Linked DNA regions of Homo sapiens: all the other regions are reported to be linked to region 1. The links are microRNA targets in miRTarBase. Many come from high-throughput screens and were not tested one by one. Region 1 holds a microRNA gene; each other region holds the end of a gene's coding sequence.
The links. The annotated mature microRNA hsa-miR-770-5p reads UCCAGUACCACGUGUCAGGGCCA and lies in region 1 at 2,767-2,789, shown strand. An mRNA with a match to its seed (bases 2 to 7 or 8) in the 3' UTR can be bound and repressed. Matches are read on the target gene's strand: a 7mer-m8 pairs with bases 2 to 8, a 7mer-A1 pairs with bases 2 to 7 and ends in A, and an 8mer does both.

Region 2: miRTarBase lists PPM1D as a target of hsa-miR-770-5p. Seed matches in the 3' UTR shown: 7mer-m8 at 1,549-1,555.
Region 3: the mRNA of DEK is a reported target of hsa-miR-770-5p. Seed matches in the 3' UTR shown: 7mer-A1 at 2,603-2,609.
Region 4: the mRNA of ZNF675 is a reported target of hsa-miR-770-5p. Seed matches in the 3' UTR shown: 7mer-A1 at 756-762.
Region 5: the mRNA of FZD6 is a reported target of hsa-miR-770-5p. Seed matches in the 3' UTR shown: 7mer-A1 at 3,483-3,489.
Region 6: the mRNA of ARCN1 is a reported target of hsa-miR-770-5p. Seed matches in the 3' UTR shown: 7mer-m8 at 1,984-1,990.

The regions. Positions count from the first base shown.
Region 1 is chr14:100,849,643-100,853,734 of GRCh38, forward strand. It overlaps MIR770 (microRNA 770), which reads left to right and starts at 2,748; the gene lies at 2,748-2,845. The region is part of intron 9 of MEG3 (maternally expressed 3); the gene reads left to right.
Region 2 is chr17:60,662,695-60,666,786 of GRCh38, reverse strand. It overlaps PPM1D (protein phosphatase, Mg2+/Mn2+ dependent 1D), which reads right to left. Exons shown (of 6, transcript NM_003620.4): 6 at 507-3,792. The coding sequence ends at 3,235. Among named protein-coding and RNA genes, the nearest start is that of BCAS3, 13 kb to the left of the region's middle.
Region 3 is chr6:18,222,127-18,226,218 of GRCh38, forward strand. It overlaps DEK (DEK proto-oncogene), which reads right to left. Exons shown (of 11, transcript NM_003472.4): 10 at 4,048-4,092; 11 at 1,734-3,604. The coding sequence ends at 3,593. It overlaps KDM1B (lysine demethylase 1B), which reads left to right. Exons shown (of 22, transcript NM_001364614.2): 22 at 1-1,728. Among named protein-coding and RNA genes, the nearest start is that of DEK, 40 kb to the right of the region's middle.
Region 4 is chr19:23,649,757-23,653,848 of GRCh38, reverse strand. ZNF675 (zinc finger protein 675) reads left to right here. Exons shown (of 4, transcript NM_138330.3): 4 at 1-1,048. The coding sequence ends at 623. Among named protein-coding and RNA genes, the nearest start is that of ZNF675, 35 kb to the left of the region's middle.
Region 5 is chr8:103,331,030-103,335,121 of GRCh38, reverse strand. FZD6 (frizzled class receptor 6) reads right to left here. Exons shown (of 7, transcript NM_003506.4): 7 at 2,256-3,781. The coding sequence ends at 3,613. Among named protein-coding and RNA genes, the nearest start is that of SNORD173, 24 kb to the right of the region's middle.
Region 6 is chr11:118,600,177-118,604,268 of GRCh38, reverse strand. ARCN1 (archain 1 coat protein complex I subunit delta) reads right to left here. Exons shown (of 10, transcript NM_001655.5): 10 at 1,236-3,644. The coding sequence ends at 3,555. It overlaps LOC124902765 (a long non-coding RNA gene), which reads left to right. Exons shown (of 2, transcript XR_007062908.1): 2 at 1-1,370. Among named protein-coding and RNA genes, the nearest start is that of PHLDB1, 5.4 kb to the left of the region's middle.

The sequences.
Region 1 (4,092 bases):
AAGAGAACGAATACGTGGGTGTATCTGTAAGAGTAGGATCTGTTAGGATTAGTCATAAGACTGTCAGTAATCCTGAAGATGGATGAGATAATCCAGGCCCAGGTTCCCAGGGGGAGGGAAAATGGAGAAAATATAAAAAGATGTGAAAAAGGAAAAAGGAAAGGTAATAAACAAACAACCAAAGTGATAAATGGATAGTTAAGGGAGGTTGTCTGAACAGGGATTATAATTAGTTTACATACATACTCCTTAAACAGATAAATACATTACACCTTTCAAAGAATAAATGAAAAATAGAGAGACATACCTGGCTCCAAAACAAGGCTGTATCTTCTGCCACTGTAATAAAATAGATGCAATTGAGGTTCATAAATAAAAGAATAAATACTTAAACGTGAAAGGTGACTAAATGCGGGGAAGAAAGATTGCAAATAAATACATGGGCCAAAGATGTTTGGTTTGCCCATGGAGTTTTAATTAAAAAAATTAATAAGGAAAACAAATACCCAAAATAAGGAAGACTGACAAATGAGTGAGTGGATGAGAGAGTGAATGGTGCTTGACGTAGGAGCAGTAGTGCTTTAGGGACCAGCATGAAGGTGGTGACCGGGAGCCCTGATTCATGGGATTCTGTCCACCTGACTTTATAAGAACCAAGAATGGCTGGGAATGGTGGCTCACGCCTGTAATCCCAGCACTTTGGGAGGCCGAGGTGGGCGGATCATGAGGTCAGGAGTTTGAGACCAGCCAGTTTGAGATCAGCCTGGCCAACATGGTGAAATTCCATCTCTACTAAAAAAATACAAAAATTATGGGCGTGGTGGCACCTGTCTGTAATCCTAGCTACTCGGGAGGCTGAGAGAGGAGAATTGCTTGAACCCGGGAGGTGGAGGTTGTAGTGAGCCAAGATTGCACCACTGCACTCCAGCCTGGGCTACAGAGCAAGACACTATCTTAGATCAAAAAAGAAAAAAAAAAAAAGAAGGAGAAAGAACCAGAGAAACATAAGGAAGAGTGAGAGGAAGAAAGAAAGATGCAATTTGGGAAGAAATGAAAAAGAAATGAATAAAGAATAAAATAATGTAACGGTCAATAAATAGGACTTGTGAATGGAGGCCTTTAGGCCAAAGGCTATGATTAATTTCAAGCTATGTTACTGAAGTCCATAAACAAAGGACTCAGATCTAAATGGATGAACGAATGACTGGAAGAAAGGGTGGTAGGAAGGTAGGAAGAAAGGAAGGAGGGAAAAAGGGAAGAGAGGAAGGAACCTTCTTTCCAGTCCTGTGTTCTAGACAGTGGAATGAAGTGGTCCCCAGGGAGGGTGGCTGTAGGCATGTCATGTGCTTGTCACATGCACTTGCCCTGGCAGGGAGGAGCTGGCTCAGGAAGACCCTGGTCTTGGGGTGCTGTTGCCCTATCTTGGCTGTGTGGGCCATTTCACTGCATCTGTCTCTTCCTCAGTTTCCCCATCTGTAAACCTGGAGTGGCACCAGCTGCCTACTAGAGTTGATCTTATGTGTCTCTGTTGATGGTACCCCATCTATGGCCTGGATAGGCAGGAAGGGCTTGGACCCTGAGCCCCGCAGAAGGTTGCATGAACGAGTGGTGTGAAGCCTGTTGGGTAGCTTGGCCACTCCCGCGGCATGGGTCACCTGCACAGGAGGTTTTGCCCACCAGGGGGCAGCAGAGGGTCAGGGAGCAATAGGCCCTGGGTGGAGCATGGGCCCCGCCTGCTGTGTGCCACCCTGGGTGTGGCACCTACTCACATCCAGGGGTTGGTGCAGGGAAAGGCCAGAAGGTGGCCAGGCGCACCTGAGAAGGGGGACCCAGAAGCCCCGGGACCCAGGAGCCCTGGGCAAGCCACCAGAAACCTTGTTCTTGCAACTCTCTGCAGTGTGCCCAGGCCACCCTCTGGCCTGGTCTTCCATGGGGCAGGGCGCCCACCCTTCTCAACTCAGGTTTCCCTGGGCAGCAGGTGCACCTCAGCACCCCTGGGGTTGCAGAAGTGGTCCGGGGACCCTGGCTTCCTTGACATGCCATCCCCAGAGCCTGGTTCAAGGCCTCTCTGTCTTCTCGGCTGTTTCACGACGTGTTTTGTAACTTGGCGGGATTGCGTTTCGCTGTGTCGAGGTTGTCTCTTCTCTGACTCGCCCTCCGGGGGACTGCCGGGGTAAATCTGGAGAGTTGCTCGTGCTGACAGTCCTCCCCCAGGGCCTCCCCGGTTCTGTTGAGTCTCCTTTCTCTGTAGTGGAGGAAATGTGTGTAGTTTTGTGTTGTGTGCCTGTGTTTGTCTGTAAAAGCAAGGACCAAAGTCTCCCTTGTTGACCTCTCAATTCCTATTTGGGACATATAAAAACACTGGATTCTTAACAAGCGCCCGGAGCAGTAGGAGCACAGCTTGGATGGACTCAGGACTTGTGGCAGGGAGCACGTGGGAGGCAGGGGAGTGGGGTGGGGCCAGGCCATCTGGAGTGGGAGGCGTCATGCTCAGAGTGACTCTGTAGACGCTGGGTGGGATGGGGAGTGCGGGCGCAGGCATGGATGGGGCTGTTAGCTAGTGTGATGCTTGAGGTCTGAGCTGATGGCAGCAAAGTGGGGTGCTCAGGAATCAAAGCTATGGGGTTATAGACAGGATATGAAGGAGGGAGGGAGGCAAGAAGAAGGGGGTGGTTCCCACGCTTCTAGCTCCGGCCGAGTGGATGGCAACAGCATTTGGAAGGCGGAGGACATGGAATTCATGTGTCAGGAGCCACCTTCCGAGCCTCCAGTACCACGTGTCAGGGCCACATGAGCTGGGCCTCGTGGGCCTGATGTGGTGCTGGGGCCTCAGGGGTCTGCTCTTCTTCTCTTTCAGAATCTGGGGCTCCAGGCTATGCCTTGGCTGGACTGAGGTCTGGGGGTGCACTTATTATCCCTGGGGACACCTGCTGAAGCTTCTCCCTGACAAGCTGTGTCACTGTTGGATGAGGATGGGGCGGGAGGGGTTCAGGGCAGAAGAAGACCGGGAGGGTCTTTCAAAAGAACTCATGTACGGCTGTTAAAAAAAGTCAGCAGAGGCTCAGGAAGACTTAAAGTGTGCAGAAGGCGGGGAAGGGAGGGCCCATTGCATGCACCAAGAGGAAATTGGAAGGAACAAGCGACGTTGGCTGCTAGGAGAGCCTGCTCCCAACATCTAGGGGCTGTCCTGACGGGTCACAGTGGGTCGAACTGAGCCAATGAGAGCAGCTCTGGGGAGACCCACTGGTGCCCTGGAGGCTGGGTGGGTTTGGGTTGGATGAATTCTGTGTGTCCTTTTGGAAATGTGGAGGCCATGAGGGGGGATCAGGGCTCTTAGGGTTTTGACCCTTAAGAGTTTTGTATCTGTAATTCAAAGGTTCTTTAGTTCTGGGATGCTGAGATTCGGGATAGGGTTCCTAATGGCACAAAAGCCAGAGATAAAACATCCTTCACGTGCTCCCTACCCGGTTCTTTCTGTACCAGACCCACAAGGTCCGAGTTGGGATCCTAGTGCTCCTGTCTGGTCAGGGCCTATCTTTATGTGTTCGTTAAACTTTTAACAATGAGAATTAATTCTGTCTCTTGACATTGTCATTTGCATGCTCCCCACACACAAATCCTTTCCTGGTGACACCAGGAGCTACAACTCTCCTTGGCCTCCTCTTGTGACTCCCAACTCCCTCCTTGGGAAGCTTGGCCTCAGGACCTCTGGGATAGACAGGCCACGAATCCTGCTGTGTCCCGTTGTGTTCCTAATATAAATGGTGTGGATGGCACTTGACCTAGAGCAGTGGGAAATGCATGCACCACTCAACATTCTGACATGTCACCCATTTTACATTCTTACAGGCATACTTTTTTTAAAAAAAGAGTGTCTATTCTTTAATGAGCATCCCTTCTTTAAAAAAACCTAATTGCCATTATTCACCACATACACTTTTTTTTTTTTGTATCCTGCCTCTTCTATTTAATTTTCTGTCATCAACATTTTCCCTTGTTCCATGAATCTTCATAACCTCACTTGCTGCGTTGTGCCTTGTTGAGTGGCTATGGCATCATTCACAGAACCATTCTGTTATTCTTATGTATAAC
Region 2 (4,092 bases), not on the chromosome of region 1:
CGGCTCACTGAAGCCTCAACCCCCTGGGCCCAAGTGATCCTCCTACCTCAGACTCCAGAGTAGCTGGGACTACAGGCACATGCCACCACACCTGGCTAGTAACGTTCCTACATTCCACTTTTAGTCATAGAACATTGATTCTAAGTAGTCTATAAGTGTATGTACATTGTAATCCCTAATGCAACCACTAATACTGCCTAAATATTTTGTCTCTAAGATTAAAATTTGCCTAGCACTTTGGGAGGCCGAGGCAGGAGGATCACTTGAGGCCAGGAATTTAAGACCAGCCTGAGCAACACAGTGAGACCTTGTCTCTAAGGAAATTTTTAAAATCCACCAGGTGTGGTGATATGCACCTGTAGTCCCAGCTACTCAGGAAGCTGAGATGGGAGGATCACTTGAACCCAGGAGTTAAAGGTTACAGTGACCTATGATTTTGCCACTGCACTCCACATCAGCCTGGGGACAGTGAGACCCTGTTAAAAAAAAAAAAAATTATTCTCAACTTTGTTAGTGAGATAGTTTATTTAGGGACAAAATACATTAAGATGTTTTACTCCACTAGAGCAATCTTCCAGATGTCTGGAAGATGAAAATAACATTGTTCATTAATGCTATTACCAAAACATAACTATTGCACACCCTACTAAAACAATGTTATACACGCTGTATTTCAGAATATCAATGCTTTTAACTTCCAGGTTGTGACAGCCTCCTTCCAGATGACACTTAAAAATGCCCACCTCCTAGAATTCATGCCTTGTGTAGGAGTCTCCCACGTTGTAGTTGACTTGGTCTGTGTGACCAACAAAATACAGAATTGGTATGACACTTTCAGAGGCTAGGTTACAAAAAACATCATGGCTTCTTCCTTGCCCTCCGGTGTTGCTTGCTCTGGGGACAAATAACTGCCATGTTGTGAGAGGCCCTCTGGAGGGGAACATGTGGCAACAAACTGAGGTCTCCTGCCAACAGCTGTGAGTCTTGCGGGAAGCAGATCTTCTAGCCCCAATGACACCTTCGAAAGATTGTAGCCCTGGTTGGTAGCTTGACCAAAACCACGAGACTATCACCCAGCTAAACCACTCTCAGATTTCTGAGGCTCAGAAACTGGAGATAATATTTGTTGTTTTAAACTGCTAAATTTCGAGATATTGTTTTGTAGCAATGAATACATATTTTAATCCTTGTGGCATAAGACACACCGATCAAGAATTATCTTCTGCAAAATATTGAAAATAACCAGAATGTGTGGACATGGTTAAATAATGGCATAGTTGGCTGGGCACGGTGGCTCACACCTGTAATCCCAGCACTTTGGGAGGCCTAGGCTGGTGGATCATGAGGTCAAGAGATCAAGACCATCTTGGCCAACATGATGAAAACCCATCTCTACTAAAAATACAAAACTTAGCCAGGCATGGTGGCACGCACCTGTAGTTCCAGCTACTCAGGAGGCTGAGACATGAAAATCACTTGAACTGAAATGTAAGAAATACATTGAAAGCATAAAACTCAGGCCGGATGCGGTGGCTCACGCCTGTAATCCCAGTACTTTGGGAGGTCGAGGCGGGTGGATCACGAGGTCAGGAGATCAAGACCAGCATGACTGACATGTGAAACCCCATCTCTACTAAAAATACAAAAATTGGCTGGGCACAGTGGCGCGTGCCTGTAATCTCAGCTACTCAGGAGGCTGAGGCAGGAGAATCGCAGGAACCCAGAAGGCAGAGGTTGCAGGGAGCCGAGATCACACCACTGCACTCCAGCCTGGATGACAGAGCTAGACTCCATCTCAAAAAAAAAAAAAAAAATTAGCCGGGTGTGGTGGCACACACCTGTAATCCCAGCTTCTGGGGAGAGAGATTGAGGCAGGAGAATCACTTGAACCCGGGAGGCAGAGGTTGCAGTCAGCCGAGATCACGCCACTGCACTCTAGCCTGGATGACAGAGTGAGACTCCATCTCAAACAAACAAACAAAATAATAAATAAATAAAATACACTCACTGTAAAGCATGATCATGGCACAACAGAATGTTAATCCAGGTTAAGCATCCCTAATCTGAAAATCCAAAATCCAAAATGCTCCAGAATCAGAAACTTTTTCAGAGCAGGCATGATGCTCAAAGGAAATGCTCATTAGAGCATTTTGAATTTCAGATTGGGAACACTCAAAAGCTCAGTATAAAGCAAATATTCCAAAATTTTAAAAAATCTGAAACACTTCTGGTCCCAAGCATTTTGGATAAGGGATACTCAACTTGTACATACCATTAAAATAAACCAACAACTACAAATTCAGCAACATGAGGAACAGTTCACTGATTTATTAGATGAATATATACCCATATAATCAATGAAAACTGTATGATATAAAATAATTTAAGAAATGTTGGGAATTAGCAGCACCATCTGTTATTGAAATAGCAAGGAAAACTTCACATATTTTAAGCAAACACGAGAAGGGAGTAACTACTTTAAGACCTAATAATGCCATTGGTCTGGGATGAAAAAGAAGGGAATTGTTTTAGATTGTTTTAGGCAAACACACTTCCTTCTATGCTGAAGATTTAGTAAGCATATCTGATGACTAAGGTTTTAGAAAAATGCTACTGATGTAAGAGATACTGCATAGTATTTTAATTGGGACAAGACTAACTGTAGCATGGCTCAACACTTCTATGAAAAATTTAGTTCTGAATTATGAAATCAGAAATAAAAAATAATGTTTAAAAGACACTTGGCTCTAAGAAACATTAAGTGAAACACAGGTCACTATGAAAATACATCACTTTTCCAGTCTGCTTAATAATTTACTTTAAAAAGTTGCACAGTTTTCAAGACAAGTGGCTTATACAAATTTTTTAATAAGTATTTTAAAAAGTTTAAATGTTTTTCTAAAATCTAATAGATTCTTTTGATTTCTTTAAACATTTAGCCCTATTGTCACAATTACTGTGTATCAGAGACTCTGAATACTGTGTATTCAGAGACTGAATTTGTGTGGATACAAATTTACACAAATTTTACAGCAACTTATACCCTAACATCTACAAAATCCACATTTACAATACAAGCAAGTACAAGGCCAGGATAAAACTGCTGAATTCCAAAAAGTCAAACTGTATATTTCTTTTAATTTTCTCCCCTTAAAAAAAGTTCAACATCGGCACCAAATTTAAAAAGCCCTCTTATATCCTAAGTTTGGAAAAACCTCATTTCCCAGATGCATTTCAGCAAACACAAACAGTTTTCCTGTGTTGATGAAGTAAAGGATTTCCAATTTTCTTCTGGCCCCTAAGTCTGCGTCGCATGGTGAGTTTAACAGAGTTCTTTCGCTGTGAGGTTGTGGGGAGACTTGCAGGCTGAGCACCACTACTTCGACTTAAGCCATTTCGTCTATGCTTCTTCATCAGGGGGCCAGAATTGGACTCTTCTAATGTCCTTTTAAAGTTTGTTGGAGGGGTTCTTTCAATTTCTTGGGCTTTCATTTGGCCAGGAGTTGACATCTTCAAATTTTTTTGGTCCATGACAGTGTTTGTTGAATTAGTAGGCACAAGGCCAATTGGAAGGCTATTATTCAAAGAATCATGTATCCTTAAAGTCAGGGCTTTAGCGCAATTTTCTTCAAGTGGTTCTGGATCTTTTGAGGGTATGACTACACCTTGGACATTCTCTCGAGCTATCTCAGCTGAAACCTCTAAAAAATTCTCTGAGAAGGCATTGCTACGAACCAGGGCAGGTATATGGTCCTTAGAATTCACCCTTGGCCATGGATCCTCCTCCAGTGACTGAAAAATAAGAAGGTAAAACAAATAAGAAAAAATTTATCCCAGAACTCAACAAATCTATGCATGTGATATTAGGCTTCTTATGAAGCTAGTAGGATGGCAAAAACGGGGTATGCATTCACTAATTCGTTCACCTTCTATTTACTGAACTATGTGTTAAGGTTTAATGGGAGGAACCTGAGTGAGAAGACAATATAAAGGTAAGAATGACATTGAATTCTGTCTTCAGGGTAATAGATGAAATTATAAAGTAATCTATTCAAGTGGGTGAAAATTCACGTGGTCACAAGCATTTTCTAT
Region 3 (4,092 bases), not on the chromosome of region 1:
AATGCAAACCTATTTCATCACTCTAAAAGCACTGACCTCAAAAAACCTTATAAGCACTTAGATTTAATTGCATTTTCCATAGGTTCAACTACTGCTGAAAGTCTGGATTTCAGAATAAAGCAGAATGTAAGTTTCAGTTGAGGCCATGGATTTGATTGTTCCATGGCTGGAAGTTCCCTTTAGATTTCACATTTTATATGGCTGATCAATTTTCATACATTGAGAAACCAAGTCAATCAAGCAGGAATCATTTAAAAACCAGATAAAGCCATGTTTTTCTTCTGTGACAATTTATCAGTATCTTTACCAATGAGCCTTAATTTTTATATAGGTCCAATATTGAGCTTTTACTTAAAATTTAGATAGAACTTTTTTTTGGATACAGCACAAACTCCAGTTGACAGTAAAATGAAGCTTCTAGGTATTTTGTATTGTACATATTTCCTCCTACTGGGTGTTCAAAAGAAATTTAAATTCAAGTACCTTTTGTGATAAAATGTTTTAGATTTGTGCACCCATTGGCAAAACAGGAAAGTTTCCAGATAGGTATTGTATCATTGAGAATGCAGCACAGATAGTGTGGGCTTCACACTATAGACACAGAATATAGCTTTTTCTTAAAGCCAAATTTGGGTGATAGGACACTTTAAATATCCTTAATTTTGGCAACCACTAGCAAAAAAACTTGTCAGAATAATTTAACCAAGCCCCTCTCCACTTCTTTTATTTAAAAGCACTGATTCAATTGCTAGGAATATTTTTGCAGATTTTTCTTTACAGTATTCCATAGGCAGGTCCACTGGAAAACTGCAGAAAAATGTGAGCTCTCCTGGTAAATAGTATACATTTTATAAGCTATATTTTAAAGGCCTAAGAACATGGCAAGTATTTACTTTTATCTTTTTTTTAAAAACACTCATGACAGAAAACAGTTTAATAATATCTCATTCTAAAATAAAACACTGGTTGCAGGGTCTTCAGGATGCCTATTTTGCCAAGAAACTTCAGTATACAGGTTAGAAATATGCTTTTGTTTTTGAACAATAATATACTGGTTTGCTTTAAAGAAGGGACTAAATATGACTTTAAAGAGACTTCAAAATATTGAGTATTTTAAAAATTTAAAAGTAGGTCAGTTTATAACGAGTAAATACCTAACACACCAAGAATGTGCAGTGAACCTCAGGCATTTAAGACACCTCCCCCACCGCCCGCCCCCCGCCCCCCCCAATCAAAGTGTGGTCCCAAAACAAGCCAACAGCTGTATATCTCAAAAGTTAACCCAAGACAACTCTGATATTTAGGTTATTTGTTGAGACTCATTGGTACTGACTGGCAAGTATTCTGCTTTAAAGTATCATGTATTAAAATGTTTAGACAGCATGTGTTTTAAAGTGATAAATGCAAAATGTTAAGTTTGAAATGGTTAACAGTAAATTATTATGTTAGTTTCCAGGCACTTGAACTGTGCTACAAGTAGGGGAAAACCTACTTTAAAGTATGGTAAATGTGTGTTTTAAACTTCCTATCAAGTGACATACTTCATTTGATTTTTTGTTTAAGAAGCCATGGTACTTTTTTCTTGAGTTACTTTGGATATGTTTTTTCAATGCCATCTGAAGATTTTGTAATTGAGTAGCAGTAAATATACAGATTTACAATGTTTTAACTACAGTTCATGAATAGCTGGTTGTGTAAAACTAATAAAAAACTAGACTTTCACATGTACTCTGTACTGTAGTGGTGATACATCCATTTAATAAGTGTGCGTACTCATCAAGAACTTTCATACAGAACAACTCCATTTCCTCACTTCCAAATACTCTATGCATGACTACTTACCTTCTTTATAGCAAATGGTCATAAAATTAACCTTAATTATTCAGTTTTGTGAAGTCACTCCAAGAAAATGGTCCATTACCACAAAAGAGTATTCCAAATTGTATAGGTTATAGGGCTGAATCAATTTAAAAATCCCTTTTCAGAATTATTCCCCATAAGGAAATGCTATATACACCTATAAGATATCAAATGCAAGTGACTTAAAACACCAGTGATTTAGATTTATTTTTATTGACAAGGTTTATAAGAACAAATATTTAAAATCGAAGGCCAATTATTAGGTCTCATTTAGTTGCTTATTTTGTTCACTTGTATTTACCTTTCCCTAGTGTCTGAGTAACTATCAAGAAACAAACCTGTGAAAATACCTGTTAACATTCAACATATATTTTTATATATTTCTGTTCTATGATGCAAAGATATTTTTCAACACTTAATTGGTGCAACAAATGTGTCATTGTGTCATAAACAGCATGTTTTAAAATTCAGATTTAATAAACTGATTTAAGACAGTAAATTTGAAAGACAAAATTAAGTCTCATTCAGGAGTGGTCCATTATGTTGATCATCTAGAATCAACACTGATTAACCAAACTCTGAAAGCCAAGAGCCCCAACTCCAGAGAAACATTAAATTTCTTTAATGTAAAAGTATATTATTTTTGAGACACACTTTGTCAGAGACATCCACGATTGCCTGCACATTATATTCTGGCATTATAATCTGGTACTTTAGTCATAATCGTGAAGCTGGCTAGGTTTCCAGTAAATATCAGCATTTTATATGGGCAAAAGCAGTTAATAAAAATCAGTTCATTTACTGTAAGCCAAATGTGCTTGTACTTAATCCCACCCTTTCCCAAAGTTTTTGAAGCTTTGATAGGTTGATTTTTGGTCTGTCCTTATATAATATAAAACGTACCTACAGACACTTTTACAGAGTTAATACTAAAATTACAAATTGATGACACTTTCGAGGCAAAGCAGGGTAACTGTTCCTTCAGTGTTGCCATCACTGAATTGACTTTCACTGTTCCATCATACTGTTTGGCTGAACACTGACATTCCATAGTCTACAACTATAAAGATACCTACCTATGTGAGTTTAAAAAGTGATCTGCACAAAAGAAATAAAAAAACTTTATATACAACCAATTGTTTTTTAAAAATACAAAAATAACATCTGTCACTTTTGTCATGCTGACAATTTGACATATATACACATGCAGGAGAAAAGTTCCAATTCAGTGATCTGGACAACTGTAGCTTGTATATTTTTAATATGATGGACACACTGCCGCTGAATTTTCACACTGACAGAGATGTGTATTCAAAATATTTCATATACTAAATACTACAATCTCTGTATGTATAAATCCTGGTGATAATAGTTTTTGTTCTACTTGATTAAAAGTATGCCTTAAGCAAGCTAATATTAAGTGCACTAAAAACCACAACAGCTCAAGAATCTATGACCTTATATAAAGAAATCCAAAATGTACAAAATACAACTATAAAAGCAAGGAACAATTAATGCCATGCAAGATTTTAAACTAAAAATGGCATAGAAATGCAATTTAAAACAGCAAACTCAAATTCACATAACACTCAAGATAAAAAGGTCAGCAGTAAGTTCTACTAACGTTGCTTAACAAGGATTTAGAAAAGGAAATACATTCTCTTTGCTGGTATAATGGTATAAATCAGATCTTCAAATCTATGGGAACGAGTCATCTTCTCTGTCCTCTATCTCAAGAAATTAGCTGTAATGAAAGAGAAACATTATTTTGCCATAAATCATAAACCTTTATCCCATTTTTTCCACATCTATTTTACTATTTTGTCCTTCAAAAATCAGTTGAGATCAATACAGAATTACAGCTACCTGCTGATCTTCCCCTCACCTTTGCCTCGTAGACAGGAACTTCCTCAAGTATTTGTGAGAGCAACGTTGAGATGCCCAGCTACCCAGGTACACCATGAGGCCACATCATAATCTGAGTTCAGGTCTTATCACTAACTGTTCAAACTTTAATTTTAAGCTTTAAAGTGGGAATGAGAAGAAATAAATTTCCCTATTATGAAGAAATGTGAGGATCAAATGTGATATTTAGTGACATGAATATTTTGAAAAATATGGAGTATTTTATGTAATTACTTTTGTCTTATATTTCTAAAGTCAAACTTGAAAGACTGAAATATTTACCTCTTTTACAGTTGTTTTTATGAAATCTTTTCTTTCAGTTAAATC
Region 4 (4,092 bases), not on the chromosome of region 1:
ATACTGGAGAGCAACCCTACAAATGTGAGGAATGCGGCAAAGCTTTTAACCGATCCTCAAATCTTACGGAACATAGGAAAATTCATACCGAAGAGAAACCCTACAAATGTAAAGAATGTGGCAAAGCTTTTAAACACTCCTCAGCCCTTACTACACATAAGAGAATTCACACTGGAGAGAAACCCTACAAATGTGAAGAATGTGGCAAAGCTTTTAACCGATCCTCAAAACTTACTGAACATAAGAAACTTCATACTGGAAAGAAACCCTACAAATGTGAAGAATGTGGCAAAGCTTTTATCCAATCCTCAAAACTTACTGAACATAAGAAAATTCATTCTGGAGAGATACCCTACAAGTGTGAAGAATGTGGCAAAGCTTTTAAACACTCCTCATCCCTTACTACACATAAAAGAATTCATACTGGGGAGAAACCCTACAAATGTGAAGAATGTGGCAAAGCTTTTAGCCGATCCTCAAAACTTACTGAACATAAGATAATTCATACTGGAGAGAAACCCTATAAATGTGAGAGATGTGACAAAGCTTTTAACCAATCTGCAAACCTTACTAAACATAAAAAAATACATACTGGAGAGAAACTACAGAACTGGAATGTGTGATAATGATTTTGACAACACCTCAAATTTTTCTAAATATAAAGGAAATCATACTGGTGAAAAATTCTAGAAATGTAAAGAATGTGTCAAAGACTTTAAATGGTTTTCACACTTCATTGTATGTAAGATAATTCATACTGGAGAAAACTACAAGTGTGAAGAATTTGGCAATACTGTTAATTAAGGCTCAAACCTTATTGCACAGGAAAGCGTTTATACTTAAGAAAAATTGTACAAATATAAAGAGTGTAAAATAGCCATTAATATCTGTTGACATCTTAATATCAGAATGTTGGTACTTAATAAAAGCATTATAAATGCAATTACTGTCTAAAGACTTTAAGAAAATATAAGCCTTTAAAGTGAAGAAGAGTATTCGTTTTGAAGACAAAGATTACAAACATAAAGAGGGTTGTAGTACATTTACTGGTATCATAAAGCTTATCATGTACATTTTGTACTAGAGAAAAACCCTGAAGCAGTTGCTCAAAGTTTTTTCAACATCAGTGAATCTGTATGGGAGAAAAACTCTGCAAATGTAATACATTTAGAAAAACACATTTTTTCAAAATCTATAGCTTTAGAAAACACCAGAGAGTTAGTACTAAAATATATTTCTGCAGGCTGGGCGCAGTGGCTCACACCTGTAATCCCAGCATATTGGGAGGCCGAGGTGGATGGATCACCTGAGGTCAGGTGTTCGAGACCAGCCTGGTCAACATAGCGAAACCCTGTCTCTACTAAAAATACAAAAATTAGCAAGGCATGGTGGTGAGTGCCTTTAATTCCAGCTACTCAGGAGGCTGAGGCAGGAGAATCGCTTGAACTGGAGGGGCAGAGGTTGCAGTGAGTCAAGATCGTGCCATTGCACTCTAGCCTGGGCAACAAGTGTGAAACTCCATCTCTCTCTCTCTCTCTCTCTCTCTCTCTCTCTCTCTCTCTCTCTCTCTCTCTCTCTCTATATATATATATATATATATATATATATATATATTTTTTTTTTTTTTTTTGTAGATGCAGTAAATATAAAACAATATTTATTCTAAAATTAAGTCTATGTAAATATCAGATAGCTCAGAAATATCTAAGGCACTGACACTTCAGACATTACAGTAAATCAGAATGCTGAGTATAAAAAATAATCCAGAACTAAAGTTGTTAGATAAATTGTGTATAACTTTAAAAGGTGTAGAAAATTTTTTGAAAAGTTATAATTACATTGAAAGTATACTTTTTTCCTTAAAAAATACAGATTATTTGCAACATGAATAATGTAATTCAACTCTCAAAATTCAAAACTCTTCTTGTTTTCTTCATTTCTATTGTATTCAACTTGTGACTAATTGTTGCATCAGAGATAGGAGAATTTTTTTTTATTAGTTGGGCATTATGATCTTTTTTATGGAAGGGTAAGGACATTAAAATGTAAGACACATAAAAATCTAAGTGGAGAGGCTCTTTTTGTTAATATAAGTGACACATGAGGTGGGTGTTCAGGGTAATATTCTGCATTATAGTGAGAAAAAAGCATTTTAAATTTTAGTTAAAATTAGTAAATTATTTTACTAATTGTACTTTTATGTAATAAAATGTACGTTCTTAAAATTTTAAGTTATGTGTGAACTTAATATTTTATTAAAATTTTATTTAACATTTATAAAACATTTAATAAAGTTAGTATGCCATTAACTTTAACCTATTTCACTTTACTCACTGGTGTAGGCAAAAGATGGTAACATACTATTTGGTAACATAATGGACAAACATTTCTAGTAATCCCTTTTGCCAGTGACTTTAAACTGCAAGGAGGTTAAAGAATGTTCTCATAGGTTAAATATTTATTTCTCATCTAAGTTTATACTTTTTAATTTTTGTGGATACATTGTATGTGTATATTTATGCCATATATAGCACATTTTGATACAGACATATAATATGTAATAATTACATCAGGAAAAATTAAGTATCCATCATCTCCAGCATTTATCCTTTGTATTATAAACCAATTCTACAGTTTTAGTTTTTTTTAATGTACAATTGTTATTGACTACAGGGCTATTTTTATGGTTATGCTAAAAATTATATAGAAGTATAAATAAAGTCCACACATTCTGAGTCCTAAATAAGCATTAAAAAAATTGTTATATGTATTTTTGAACATGTTGTTTCTCTGCCTGCAAACACATACAGACTTGTTAGTTTTGACTTAGTAAAGTTAAATATATACATACATTACTCTTAAGTTAAACCCTAGGTGTAAGAAAATTATGGAGTAAGTAAGCATGTTTGTGTGAGTATAAATTTGTTCCTATTTTCAGAAGAAAAGAGCAATATTGGAACAAAACATTTTAGTAAGGTAACTAATTTACTAGAAAACTATAAACCTCAAAAATGCGGAAAGCAAATCTATACTCTTTCTACTGAATTACTGTAAAATAGTATGGCTTATGGGTTCAAAATCTTATGCAAATTTTGTTTTTACTTGATTGGTACTCATGCCTAGCCCACATTTTTTTGTTGTTTCTTACAATTTTTTTTCTTTTATAGTTTATGAGGTTTTCATTATGTGAAGTGGTCAAAGATATAAACTATTTTTATAAAATTTAGTAGGGCACACAAAATAATTTTTAGATGTAGTTCCACAATTAGTGTATTGTTTTATTGAATTAAAACATTCTATTTTGTTCTTCTAATTGAAGAACCTTATATAAGCCTATTTAAGTTATTATTCCTTTCACTTTTTATAATTGACAGAAGTAAATTTATTTGTTGATTGAGCCAGTTCAGGTATTGGGGGAACCCGCCCCCAATATTTCAATGTAGGTTCTTTCTATTTTCCATAAGTGTCAGCCGGCTGAGAAATAGAGATAACACAGAGAAAGGAATTTTACAGCTGGGCTGCCAGGGGTGACATCACCTATCAGTAGGACCATGATGCCCGCCTGAGTCTCAGACCAGCAAGTTTTTATTAAGGGTTTCAAAAGGGGAGGGGGTGTAAGAACAGAGAGTAGGTACAAAGATCACATGCTTCAAAGAGCAAAAAGCAGAACCACTGATAAGGGTCTAACAAAGATCACGTTTCTGAGGGAACAGGGCAAAGGGCAAACGCAGAACCACTAATAAGGCTCCAACAAAGATCAAAGGGCAAAAGCAGAACCTCTGATAAGGGTCCAACAAAGATCACAGGGCAAAGGGCAAAAGCAGAACCACTGATAAGGGTGTATGTTCAGTAGTACATGTATTGTCTTGATAAACAACTGAAAACGGTTGGAGAGCAGAGAACCAGTCTGACCACAAATTTACCAGGGTTGAGTTTTCCCAACCCTAGTAAGCCTGAGGGTTCTGCAGGAGACCATGGCTTATCTCAGTCCTTATCTGAACTGTACAAGACAGACATTCCCAGAGCAGCCATTTATAGACCTCCCCCAGGAATGCATTCTTTTCCCAGAGTATTAATATTACTTGCTAGGAA
Region 5 (4,092 bases), not on the chromosome of region 1:
GATGGAAGTGGTGGTTGCTTGAATTTGGAAGGCTACCTCAAGAACATTCACACCTGTCGCATGAATAAGTTTCTAAAGCTACTGCGATTTTGAGGATTGTTACAGAAGTTAGCCTCATACTGACTAATCCTGGTAGCAAAAGGGCATTTGATAAAATTCAGTACATATTCCTCATTTTTAAAAACTTATAAGATGGAATAGGATTCTTTTAACTCATTAAGAAATACCTATCTTATGTCAAATGCCAACATTGTTCTTCATGATGAAGTACTACAGGCATTTTCTTTAAAATAAAGAAACAAGACGAGGATGTCTACTGCTACTACTATTAATGTTAACTGGCTACAAGTTCCAGCTAATAGCTGAGGAATAAAATTACCATTATTTGAGAGGAAAAAATCATCCACCTAGAAAATCCAGGAAAAATCAACTGCAAAATTATTAGAGGGATTGAGGGACTTTAATAAAGTCATCTGCTACAAAATAAATATTACAAATTAATGTTTCCTATATGATCTTTAAAAAGTAAATTGTGTATCTTGAAATACATTATATATAAAATAATCATAAAACAAAAAGGTACTATGAAAAAAGAACAAAATTTTTAAAATGCTGTGAAATTAAAAAATGATAGCCAAAAAAACTTCAATCAAAAATTAAAAAATACATTTGATAAAGTTTCAAAGAAAAAAATCCAAAGAGATTGGCAAAAGGAGAGGAAAGATGAGAAAATTAAAGGATCCATCCAGGAGTCCAATATCTGACTAAAAGGTGAGAAAAAGCAAGCAGAAGGAAGAAAATTATAAAGAACATTTAGCTGATTTGGATGACTAAGCTTTATTCAAATTTCCTTAGTTTTTATCTAATGTGCTTTTTTCTTTTCCAAGATACCACATTACATTTAGTTGTCATGTCTCCTTCAGCTCCTCTTGGCTGTGATAGTTTCTCAAACTTCCCTTGTTCTTGAGGATTTTGACTCCTTTTGAGGAGGACTGGTCAGCTATCTTGTAAAATGTCCATCTGCTGAGATTCATCTCATATTTCACAACTAGAGTGAGGTTATAGGTTTTGGGAATATCAGAGGTAAACTGCAATTTTCATCACATCATATGAAAGGTAACACTCTCAACATGACTTACCTCTCTTTTGACTTTGATCGCCTTCTGAGTAGTGAGGTACCTCTCGCTGAGTTTGTCAGGTTTCTCCACTGTAAATGCTACTCTCCCTGTACCACCTGTACTTTGGATTCTTTGGAAGGAAGTCACTATGTGCTGTCCATTCTTATAGGTGTGTAGTATCTTATTGTTTTCCTTGCTTGTACTTTTAAGTTACATGATGTGTATCTAGTAATACATCAGCAGTACCTGGGGATCTTTTTCTCTTGCTTGTGCCAATTCTTGTTCATGTTTTAATGAACAAAAAATGGTCTTTTTTGCATACCTGATTGTTTGATTGTATGATGAGCACTGTGGTACTTTTAGAGTATATAAAATAACATTTTCTTCCTCCAGAGAAGATTTTCATTTACCTGGTGCTTGAGCTACCTTAATCTAATTTCAGGGTTTGAACTTTTTCTATCTACCCAGACAACTTGAAGCAGGGCTGCTTTATGTACAACTCACATGTACTTTTAAGATCCAACCCTCTGAGGTCACAATTCTAAATGTAGGGTGGTTGCAGACCCCTTGTCTTCCAGCCCTTTGAGGCTGTCAATAGCACTGTTCCACTTCTCAGCTGCCCTTTCCAAGTCATCAAGTGCTCCTGGGCAAAACAGCTCCAAATGTTGGGCTTTGTAGTGAGAATTTCTCTCTTCTCCCAGATCTTAACCTGGCAATTCCTCACTATCTTATTAGTTTTTTAATGTTTGGGGTTAATATTATTTTATTTCTTTTTTTCCCCCATCACAGAAATCTGCCTATTGTTTTATTTCATCCACATATTCTAGCCTTCTGTTTTGGGAGGTTTGTCTGTATCACCTAATACACTGTTAGGAGTGAAAACTGGGTCCTGGGTTCCTTTTGCTTCACCCCTCACACTCCAGATCTTTCCCACTGGCTTTAAAAAGTTACAGTTAATATAGCTTTATAATTTACATTTTTGGAAAGAAATAGTGACAAAAAGCAAGAATCTTGACTGCATTCTCCTTCAAGGTTAAAAAGAAGCCTCTGACTTACCAGCCATGGAGTCACTAATCTAAAAAATTATACTACTTCCTTGGCCAGAACTACTATACCTAACCACAGAATACTCCATAATTCTTATACAAAGATAATTTTATTAATGAAAAGATCACACAAAACAAAGTTTTTGTATTCAAAGTTGTCTGTTTAAAATGTGGAAAAGGTAATATTTACAACATTTCCCATACAGTACATAGTTTTTGTGCCTTAACAGAATGCTAAATAGAGAAAAAAACCAAAAGCAAATGCTAAATTGAGAGAAAATCAAAAGCATCAGAAAATCTTGCCCAAAGAATAATACTTAATAGGAAACAAAATTAAGAAAACTCCTTAATATTTTAAAGTATGTTGTATAAAAACGTTGTGTCTTGTTTATTAAAACTACCTTTTTTCCATTTGATTGGCACTAATATCGCTATCACACTTTTTAATGTTCAGCAAAATCCTAGTGAGCTGCCGAAATGAATTCTACAAAATGTCTGAGAAAGGTACTGTATAATACAAAATGTAATATTCTAAATGTTAAAAAACAAAAGTTAAAACAAAAAATATAAGCAACTGTAAGTGGTTATAATACAATCAATGGGTGGTCATGAAACATTAAAAAAGGGAAGTCAATTGCACTTGGCCTAATATACAAAAGACTAACATTTTGTCTACTAACCCTTTAGGACATTTTATTTTAAATATGCAGAAGGATCAGTGAGCAGCATAATACAATCAATAGTGGACACTCTTTGAGTAAGCACCTTATTTCAGTTACATAATTTAGATCTGTGAAATTCCTAAAACGAGACTATAAAAATCACACATTTTAGATGGTAAGGTATCAATAAGTGGGTTTTTAAAGTTAAATTCCTATTATAAGACTTTTTGGTATATCTTTTTTTACAGTATAAAAGAAGACTATTTTACAATTTTCTTAGAAATTCAGTGTAAAAGCTACCAAAGTGCTAAAATATCACAATAGCATGATAAAAATACTTGAATAGGATTTCAAAAAAGTTCAAATACATATAAGCTTATTTTCAAATATGTATAAAAAGATACAAGGATAAGATTTAAATACTTCAGCAAAGAAATATCTTGATTTTATATCAAAAAAGTAAAATAGCATAGTACATCTTAAAATACTCTTACCAAGAGTAGAATCTTCATAAATAGAAAAGGAAGATTCCTCTAACTCTGTCCTCCCACACTATTAAAAAAATATTATTAACCTGCACATTTTCTGTTTTCAGGTATATTGTTGTCATTAACCTTTGTGTGAAATGAGTCATATTATTCTTGAACTCTATTTTTTCCAGTATAACAGTAGGCAATGCAACTTTAAGTGCAAAAGAAGAATGTAACAGTGATTCTTACAAAACAGTGCATAGGTCACTTCCAGTGTAACACAAATTTGCTTCTGAGTAACGAGAGAAAATGTTCTTCAAGTATCTGAATGACAACCACCTCCCTGCTCTTTTCTCACTCCTGAAACCGGGTGAACAAGCAGAGATGTGGAACCTTTGAGGCTGCTTGGTTCTGAAGAACTGGGGACCTGCAAATTGTTGCTCTGTGCCAGGCCAGTGTCAGTAATATCACTCTTTGGACTAATCCTAGATAAAAGAAAAAAAGTTGACACACACACATCCACAAACACAAATATGATGCCATTTTTCATGAGTTTCACCCCTAACCAGTGTCCACCTTTATCAGAGAATAAATAGCTAACAGTCTTCAGGTGTACTTTAACACTTCAAAATACAAATTTTTTTTTTGAGACAGAGTCTCACTCTGTTGCTAGGCTGGAGTGCAATAATAGCGTGATCTCAGCTCACTGCAACCTCCACCTCTTGGGTTCAAGCGATTCTCCTGCCTCAGCCTCCCGAGTAGCTGGGACTACAGGTGGGTGCCACCACACCCGGCT
Region 6 (4,092 bases), not on the chromosome of region 1:
AAACTGTTCACAATTTAAAAATTAATTGGAGGGCAAAGTTTCCCATCAGAGATGCATGGGTTGACAAATTTGAAGCTATGGTGAGTAAAGGAATGACAGACCTTAATCATTTCATTCGATTAAGGCTACAGTCTCAGACAGCTAAGCCACACTTGAGCAACATTAGACCAGATACTTTTTTTCACCAAGAAAAAAAAAATCAGAATCTTGGCTTTCAACATTAGAAATTTCTCATCCCAGATACTTAATAAGTGAGAATAATTTGCCTTCCAATTTTTTGACACCCAATAGTTTTTCCAAGTTAAATTTTAAAAAAGCATAAGAAAGTAAGCAGCTCTGGCGGAGCGCGGTGGCTCAGGCCTATAATCCCAGCACTTTGGGAGGCTGAGGCGGGCGGATCACGAGGTCAGGAGTTTGAGACCAGTCTGACCAACATGGTGAAACCGTCTCTACTAAAAATACAAAAATTAGCCGGGGGTGGTGGTGTGGAATGCCTGTAATCCCAGCTACTCAGGAGGCTGAGGCAGGAGAATCACTTGAACCCTGGAGGTGGAGGTTGTGGTGAGCCGAAATCATGTCACTGCACTGCAGCCTGGTGACTGTCTCAAAAAAAAAAAAAAAAAAGGCTGGGCGCGGTGGCTCACGCCTGTAATCCAGCACTTTGGGAGGCAGAGGTGGGCGAATCATCTGAGACCAGGAGTTCAAGACCAGCCTGACCAACATGGTGAAACCGTCTCTACGAAAATACAAAAAAAATTAGCCCGGCATGATGGCGGGTGACTGTAATCCCAGCTACTCTGGAGGCTGAGGCAGGAGAATCGCTTGAAGCTGGGCGACCGTGGTTGCAGCGAGCTGAGATCGCACCACCACACTCCAACCTGGGCAGCTAAGCGAGACTCCATCTCAAAAAAAAAAAGTAAGCAGGTTTATCTGAGGGAATTATCAACAGTTCCCAAAAATTGTTCCCATTATCCCTCATCCCTGGATCACTTCTCATCACGGTCTAATGGGGAAGAGAAGACTCCAAGACTCCAAGATTAAAGATGAAGCCTGACTTTTTTGACTCTCCAACTGCCGTCTGACAAAATTAAGACTCCAATCCCCAAAAAGGCCAGAAGTAGCATCAAATTCAAAAGCTACACTGTCAGGAGTGCATGTATCAAATGTAGAAAAATACGCAAGGAAGCACAATACATATAAGATGGAAAAAGGCAATGAATACTCTCACAGATTACTTTCTCTTAAAAAAAACATGTCATTAATTTTTAATGTTAGGTCCCATTACAGCATCCTGAATCAACAAGCAGACACCAAAGTGAGTCAATAATCCAATAAACATCTCATTTTATAATGCGCTTTATTTGATTAAAGAATTTGCCTTCTTTGTATACACTGGAATGTTATATTCCCTATGTATTTTACAGGGTTACAAAATGTCTCTCATTTTAAATATTACCCCAAAAGTAATCTCAGAAAAAAAAGGTTTTTTGAAATTAAACTTGACTTTTAAAAAATCATACGGACAAACAACTTTCAAACAAAACTGGATTAGTAGGATTTCTTGCCTGCTTAACTAACATGACAGACTTCTTGTCCCAAGCCCTTCTCAGAAAAACCTCATGTGGAAACCAAGCTAGAGATAAGAATTCTTCCCTGATGCAGTTAGGGGAAAGGGAAAGGCTAGAAACTTCTTTGGCAAGCAATTCCACACACAGCCATTTATGTGTGAGTGCTCTGCTTCAAGCACAGTACACTCTTTGCAGGGACGGCCAGATGTTCAGAGTGGGAGTGGTACTTTTCAACCAGCTAAAAGTGCAGAAGTCATCTAGTCGTCTGCCTCTTCCCACTGCCAGTGCCTGCAGCCTTGCAGCAACTTTTAACCACCCCTATGGACTGGAATATTGAGTTAAAAGCCAAGGCTGAGCTGGCTGACGCTGTAGTCTCCATTGAAAAGGAAATGGATGAGATGGAACCGAGAAACCACCAGTACATGATGACACTCAAAAGACTTAGGGGGAAAGAGAAGGAAGGATTTCAGAGATGGGGACAGACTGGTGGAAAATGTTGGGCTGACTGGAAGGAAATGGGGTATACGTGAGTAATATGTACATATCGAAACAATCAGTTGCCTCCTGAAATGCAAAAAATCAAATGGTGAAATGGAGCCTCCTTGATAGTTTAGGGCCAACAGGATTGGCAAAGACTCCCTGAACCCACAGCCTTCAAAATCATAACCCCATTTCTGTTAGAAAGGAGGGGACTGATGACAGAGAGTGCAGTCTGGAAGAGGGAGGTGGTGAAACTGAGGAATGTGAATGGATTACAGACTGTGGCCATTACGTTTTAGCTTAAGTACCCAAAATGTGGAGAAATGAAAATTTGGGTAGCAACAGCAGCAGACATGATTACATGTGGATGTGAAATCCCTAACTGGACAGACATAACCATTCTTTTAGACATCTTGAAGAGGGACTGTGCCATTTGAAAGGTGCTTCTCAGCTATCTTTAATATTGACACAAGTGGGATTCATGGTACTGTTCTAAACTGGAAGGACAGGCCCTGAAAGGAAAACAACTTGGCAAAGAGATGAAGGAATGAATTGATACGGGAAAAGAACAGAAGACATGCGTATCTTTTAACTTCTAGACCCCATACCCCTCAAATAGTTCACCTGAATAGTCCAAAAATCAAGAATGGGTTAGATATACTTGTTCCAGGAGTGCCAAATAAATATAATGCCTGTAAACAGATGATCCCAGTGCCTGACTGAATGTATAGAAAGAAAAACCTAAAGGTAAAGGGTATGAATGATTAAAATTTTCTACAGAGAAAACTTTTTAAAAACAAACTAAGTATGAAATATAACTATATTTAGGGATTATATTTAGGGATTAAAATAAAGGAGCAGCTGGGCATGGTGGCTCATGCCTGTAATCCCAACACTTTGGGAGGCTGAGGTGGGCGGATTGCCTGAGCTCAGGAGTTCGCGACCAGCCTGGGCAACACGGTGAAACCCCGTCTCTACTAAAATACAAAAAATTAGCCAGGCGTGGTGGCGTGCACCTGTAGTCCCAGCTACTCGGAGGCTGAGGCAGGAGACTTGCTTGAACCCAGGAGGCGGAGGTTGCAGTGAGCTGAGATCATGCCATTGCATTCCAGCCTGGGTTACAAAGTGAGACTCCATCTCAAAAAATAATAATAATAATAATAATAATAATAAAATAAAAATAAAGGAGCAACTTAGGTAAAGGTAGAGGAGGTATTTAACTGGGGGCATTCTCTGGAGAGCTTGCTTTCCTGCTGGCCAATACAATCTGCCAAAGAAAATTAGCAGCCTTTCCCTTTATGTTTGTGCCATTTCCTTATCAAAGAATGTCTCTGTGACACTGAAACATGGGGGTGAGTCGAGGGTCCTTGCGCGCAGAGAATCGTGCATTGTATCAGAAAAAAGGGGTCTCCAGTGGCTTGTAAATCTGGGAAAAACTCTTCAGCCATCATTGGCGTCTTCTTTATTAATCTGAAAATTTTCCTTTTCAGCTCCCTCTTCTTGGTATTACAGAATTTCATACTTATCCACTAGGAAAGTGGTCTCTGTGGAAAACCTGACGGGGCTGTTTCCATCTACCTGGGTCACTTTGGTAACCTAGGAAAATAAACAAAGAGTAAGGTAAAGCAGGAGGTTTGAGTCTCCATCATGTTGACTACATTCTCATTACAGAACATATCAATTTCCCTAAAAGCGGTATTAAAAGTAACTGTAAAATACTAGAAAAATGTTCAATTCACAACTGAAAGTCACAGCATCACTCTTCCCCACCAAAATGATTAAGCTGCTTTTCTTCTAGATGGAGAAAAGACAACTGTTGGGACGAGATGTTCCGTAGTATTAAGTAAAAGCTCCAAAATGAGTGGCCACAGCCCAGCCCTGCCCTGTATAACCTATGAAATTCATAGACATTCTATCAGGATGATATATTAACATTCTGACCCAAAAGGCAACGTTCTAGCTCTTCACATTATTCATTTGCTCTGCTCTCAAAGTCTCGTGTTAAAAGTCCCAGTAAGCTGCTCTATCATACTTATTTTTTAGG